Linked DNA regions of Homo sapiens: region 1 is linked to region 2. The links come from fine-mapping of genetic effects on gene expression. A gene starts in region 2. The other region holds a variant in brackets. All regions are shown on one strand. Distances are between the middles of the regions.

Region 1 (2,868 bases), 150 kb before region 2:
CTTTTCCACTCTGTCTCCGTTTCCCCTTAAAGCCCTTCTCTCCCCCTCAGGGGCCATGCATCTCCCCCTAGACCGTCCCGACACCCCAGCCCCTGCGCCCCGCTCAGACTGGTTCCCCTACACACGGAACTCACCGTCCTTGTCTCCGTCGGGGGCCTCTGCGGAGGACGCGCCGCGAAGCCGCCGCTGTCGCCGCCTCCAGCTCACCAGACCCACCAGGACCAGCGCCAGGACCAGTGCCAGGCCCAGCAGCGCGGGGGCGCCAAAGAGCAGCCCGGGCAGGGGCAGCGCCGCCTCGCCGGCCCCCGCGCCCACCGACTCCTGCGGCTGCAGCGCCGTCCTGGGCGCAGGGCTGCTGGCCCCGGCTGCTTCGGGAGGGGACAGGGAGGGAGGCCAGGGGGCCGAGGGGAGGGAGGAGCGGGGACGGGGAGGGGCGGAGGGGGGCGAGGCTGGCCGGGGAGGGGAGGGACAGCCGGGGGGCGGTGGACAAGGGGAGGGAGAGAGGCGGCGGTGAGGGCCACGCGGTGATCGCGGGCCCCTCCAGGCCCTGCCCACAGGGTCCTTTCAGCCCTCGGCGCCCCCGGGGGTCGGGGCTCTGCCTGCGCCCTGGCGATCGGGGCCCCGTTCTCCCCGCAGCTGCCGGCGCCGCGCGCCCCGTGGGTCCCCCTTACCCGGTTTCGGCCGCGGCGTGCGCAGGAGCCCGCAGGCCACGCAGTGGCGGACCAGCAGGTCGAAGCACTCGGCCGGGACGCAGGGCGTGGGGGCTGGCGCGTCCCTGCCCCGCAGGCTCCGGGGCCCTCGCCTCATGGTGCCGACGCCGCCGCACAAGCTGCGGGGACTGAGGCTGAGCTGGGCTCCGGGGCCCTCGGGGAGGAAGCGGGGGGCGGGGGGAGCACTCTGCCCTGCCCCGCCCCCGCCTGCTGGGTGGGACCGAGCTCGCCTGGGGCCCCCCTTTCTTTTCTTTTTTTTTTTTTGAGACGGAGTCTCGCTCTGTCGCCCAGGCTGGAGTGCAATGGCGCTATCTCGGCTCACTGCAAGCTCTGCCTCCCGGGTTCAAACAATTCTCTGCCTCAGCCTCCCGAGTAGCTGAGATTGTAGGCGCCCACTGCCACGCCCGGCTAATTTTTGTATTTTTAGTAGAGACGGGGTTTCACCATCTTGGTCAGACTGGTTTTGAACTCCTGACCTCGTGATCCACCTGCCTCGGCCTCCCAAAGTGCTAGGATTACAGGCGTGAGCCACCGCACCCGGCCTGGCCTCTCTTTCTACCTGTGGTTCCCCAATTCAGCCCCTCAACCAGCACCGCCTGGGTGGGCCCTCTGCTGGGTGCTGGGAGGTGTCTGGGGGCAGACCAGAGCCTCCTCTTGGGTAGGGAGGGGGATGGACCCCGCAGCCAGGACACAGACCCTGAGTGGTTCCTCTGCTCCGTCTAGCCAAAGCCTCTCCATGACCCCGAGTGCTCCCCTGCCATCTCCCCCAACCCACCTGTCTCCTCCTCTCTTCCTGCCCTTCCTGGACAGAGCTGGTTGGGGATATCAGACACCTG[CT/C]TTTTTTTTTTTTTTTTTTGAAAAAGAGTCTGGCTCTGTGCAGTGGTGCAATCTCGGCTCACTGCAACCTCTGCCTCCCAGATTCAAGCGATTCTCCTGCCTCAGCCTCCCGAGTAACTGGGATTACAGGCATGCACCACCATGCCCGGCTAATTTTTGTATTTTTAGTAGAGGTGGGGTTTCACCATTTGGCCAGGCTGGTCTCGAACTCCTGACCTCAGGTGATCCGCCCTCCTCGGCCTCCCAAAGTGCTGGGATTATAGGTGTGAAGCCACAGTGCCCAGCCTGACATCAGACACTTGTACCAGGCCCAAGTAGCATGTGGGTCTGCCCTGAGGGAATCTCACACTTGTGCTGATGGGGGAAGACAGCCTCGCAGCAAGGGCACCAGCTCACGTCATCCTGGAAGGTGGGCCGGAAGGCTTCATGGAGAGGGCGATGGTGAAGTGTTTGCCAGATGGACTGAGGTCTAGGGAGCAGATGGGGGTGAAGGCCAAAGGGGAGCAAAGGCTTGGAGGCCCAAACAGGAAGTCCAGGGAGTGCTGGGACCGAAAGGCTGGACTGGGGCCTTATCTAGCACATTAGGGAGCTTGGACTGTGGCTGGGGGACACGAGGGAGCCACTGGGGCTTTGTGCAGGGAGGACCCAGGAAGATCTGCCTATGAGTGAGGGAACTGTGACTGCAGTGGAGGGAAGCCCGCCCACACCTGCTCCTTTTCTCCAGGGCTATGTGTCCTCTCCTGCTCACCTCTGTGTCTCACTGCGGGCCCCTCCTGTCTATCTCTGCTCCCCAGTGTTTGGGGTCCCCAACTGTCTGTCACCCGTGTCTCTCTCAGACTGCGTCTCAGAAACACACACAAGCCCCTCCGCCCTCCTGGTCACATGCTACCCCCTCCCCAGGGCCAGGGCTGGAGGGAACTCTGGGAGCTCAGGGCTCAGCAGAGAGCATGGGGTTAAATGCCACACATGCCACCCAGACCCCTAAGCACTCAGGGCTGGGGAAGCACAGTGAGAGGAGAAACTCAGGGGCTGGGGAGGGAGCCTGGGGGCAGAGGGAGACCCTGAGCAGCAGCGAGGGGGAGGCAAACACTCCAGGCGGAGGGCTGCAGGGGCTAAGGCTTGGAGAGATGAAAGGGGAGCCTGAGCTGCTCTGGGGGCAGGCATGGCCACTGCCACAGGGGATGCTGGGAGGGAGGAGGGAGCATCCGGGCTGCGGATGGGCAGGGCACCAGTCCCGGGGCAGTACAGAACCTGGGGGTGTCTGGGTAGGAGGGAGATTCTGAGCTGTACCTGCAAGGGTCCCTCTCTCTGGCACTGTGGC
Region 2 (2,896 bases):
CTATGGCCTGCCTTGCAGGAGAAAAACAGGAGAAAGAAGGGGGGCAGGAGAAGGTCAGAGAGATACTTTGCTTCTGAGGCTCTTCCAGTGTCCTTTGGTTCAAAGTACTCAGCATGCCCAAGTGCCATATTTTTAGGCATCGCTTTCTGAGCCCCAACAGCACCTTCACTCAGATGGCCACTGGGTGTCTCAAACATAACCCAGACCAAGCACCGGCCACTTTCCACATCTCAGATAATGACAACTCTCCTAGGTGCTCAAGCCAAAACTGTGCAGTCCTGCCTGCTCTTTCCCTCACTCCCCACATCCAACTCCTCAGCAAATCCTGTGTTCTCTACCTTCAACAGCCATTCTAATTCTGGCTGCCTCTCCCTCCCCGCTCTTGCCGCGTTTGTGACATCTCGCCTGGATAGTGGCAGCAGGCTCCTCACTGGTCTCCAGCCTCCACTGACATTGATTCTCACCACAGAAGCCAGAGTATGCCTTGAAATCGCTCAGGTCCCTCCTCACAGCCCTGTCTAGAGTAACAGCCCTCCCAGATTTACAGAGCCCCATCCCACCCCTTCTACCCCCACCTCCTACTGTCTGCCCCTCCCCAGGCCTCCCAGCCTCACTGGCCTTCTTGCAGGTCCTCAAGCACAACAGGCCTGAGGGCCACTGCGCTGACTGTTCCCTCTGCCTGGAATTGGCATGGCTGGCTCCCTCATTTCCTTCAAGTATTTGTCCAATGTTACTTTCTCAGTGAGGCCTACCCTGACCACTCTATTTGCAATTGCAACCTCCCTACTCCCACAATTTCCCATCTCCCTTACCCTCCTCTGTTTTTCCATGCCACTTATTATCTTCTAACACATTTATTATGGTGTACAGTATTAACTGAATAAAATTTAGTAGGGGAGACAGGCAATAAACAAGAAAATAAAAGCATGAGCATAGGAAAGTTTACTCTAGCAGTGAGTGCTCTGATGGAAATAACACCCCAGGGATGGGACAGAGACTGCAGGGCAGGTTGCTTTACAATGGTCCCAGAGGAGACCACTGAGCAGAGACTCAAATCTGTGTCCAGAGGCGTCCTGAGGAGTGGAGCTGCGGTTGGGGGTGGGAAGGAAGGCCATTCTAGGCTGCAGGAACTGCAAGGGCAAAGGCTCTGAGGCGGGAGCCAGGTTCATGGGCAGATGTTTGAGGACACCTCCGGCTTCCAGGGCCTTCCAGAAGTTCCAGTCTCTTGGGTTTGGTTGTGCATTCCTGCGACCTTCACCGCAGGCCTCCTCCTCCACCCACTAGTGCAGAGCCTGGGGGCTGCCGGTGGGTTTCAGGCCAGGGAAGCAGAAATGGGTAATTTCCAGAGGCAGAAATCAGCCGACCCCGGTGGCCCGGTGGGTGGCCAACAAAGCTTGGCTGGCCCTCGCGGGCTGTGTAGGAGCCCACCCTAGGGAGGTACCCAGAGACATCCCTGGTTTGGCTCTGCCGGGAAAGTGGGCCGAGCAGGGAGAGGGGGACCAGAGAGGAAGAGATGGACAGAGTTTTCCGGACGGTGGGCTGGGTCCGAGGCCCGCGGACCGTCCGAGGGGGGCCTCTGGGTTCGAGGCCGCCCGCACCGACCAGTGCTGTGGCTCGGGCAGTTCACCGCCCTCTCGGGCCTCAGTTTCCCGCCCTGGCAGACCTCGAGGCGGCCTCGGAGATCCCGGGCCTGGCGAATACTGGGCGGGGAGGGGCGTTAACTCCAGCCTCCCGGGCGGGGTCTCCCGGCTCCCGCGGCCACGTTGCAGCCCAGGCGGAGGCGCGGGATCTCGAGCTGGGATCGCCCTCTTGGGCTTCGGTGCGATCGGCGGCGGGAGGTGAGAGTGGGCCCGGCGGGCTCCGGGAGGAGGTGGCCCCAGGGAAGGTGTGGCCGCGGGGAAGTGGCGGCGAACAGCCCCGACGCGAGGACGGGGAAACCAAGGCGGCAGCCAGGGAGACCCTGACCGAGGTGACCTCTGTTTAGGGCGACAACCGGGTTGGGGCTCCCCGCAGTGGCCACTGGCCCGGCGGTCCCGCACCCCCAGCCCGCCTCTCCTCCAACAAAAGAATCCAGGAAGACGGTGGGGCGGGCGGGAGGCCCGGTGTGCGGTGGCCTGGCCCCCCTACTGGTGGAGAGGAGGGAGCGCCCTTCCCCAGACGCGGGGGAGGGGAGGGGTCATGGCCCCACGGGCTGCCCACCCCCTCCCTGTGCCCCAGTGCTGGGCCCAGGACCCCCAGTGAGGCCACTCCTCTGGCAAACATCTGTGATCTCTTCCCCCTTCCTGGGCCCCCCCTACTGGAATGGCGTCTCTCCCCATCCAGGGGCCTGGCTTGTTTTTCTCCATAACCCTTAGCATTACCGGTCCTTATGTTATCTCTTATTTCACTAATTATTCTTTCATTAATTTATTAGTATTTATTTTGTTTGCCTACAGTGTGTTTCCCCCTGTGGGAATGTAGGCTCCAGGAGGGCGGGAGACTTCGATTTGTCCACTGATGTATCCCCATTAATTCAACAGATCCCTCCTGAGGGCCTCTCTGAGCCCTGCACGGTGCTGGGTATTGGGGTTCTCCTGGGAACTTAGCTGAGCCCCACCCTAGACATTCTGGGGCTGGGAACAGTGCTGTAAACACATATGACATCGTCGTGGGATGAAGGAAACAAACCAGAAATGGGGGGGTCTACTGGTCAGGTGACCTTAGGTCAGGCCACCTTGGTGGTCAGGGCCACCTTAGATGATATGGTGATCATGGAAGGCCTCCCAGATTAGGTGACTTCAGTTAAAGCCAGGAAGTGCTAGAAGGGAAAAGCTAGGAACCATGAGGGCATGTGTAGCTCTGACCTGGACTCAGGCAGGGAGCTGGGGTCTGAAGAGTAAAGGTCAAGACAAGGGGA

The links. PIP is the estimated chance that this variant, and not a neighbour inherited with it, causes the effect.
Region 1: its variant is fine-mapped to the expression of PHETA2 in whole blood (INTERVAL, PIP 0.98).

Annotation. Positions count from the first base shown.
Region 1 is chr22:41,925,967-41,928,834 of GRCh38, forward strand. TNFRSF13C (TNF receptor superfamily member 13C) reads right to left here and starts at 840. Exons shown (of 3, transcript NM_052945.4): 1 at 672-840; 2 at 135-365. The coding sequence starts at 807. It also overlaps a transcript of CENPM not described here. RefSeq lists enhancers at 1-68, 2,626-2,695, 2,839-2,868 and a silencer at 161-900. The variant CT/C (reference allele first, on the strand shown) is at 1,547.
Region 2 is chr22:42,072,504-42,075,399 of GRCh38, forward strand. It overlaps PHETA2 (PH domain containing endocytic trafficking adaptor 2), which reads left to right and starts at 1,745. Exons shown (of 3, transcript NM_001002034.3): 1 at 1,745-1,838. RefSeq lists enhancers at 1,065-1,797, 1,798-2,528 and silencers at 1,883-2,262, 2,502-2,796.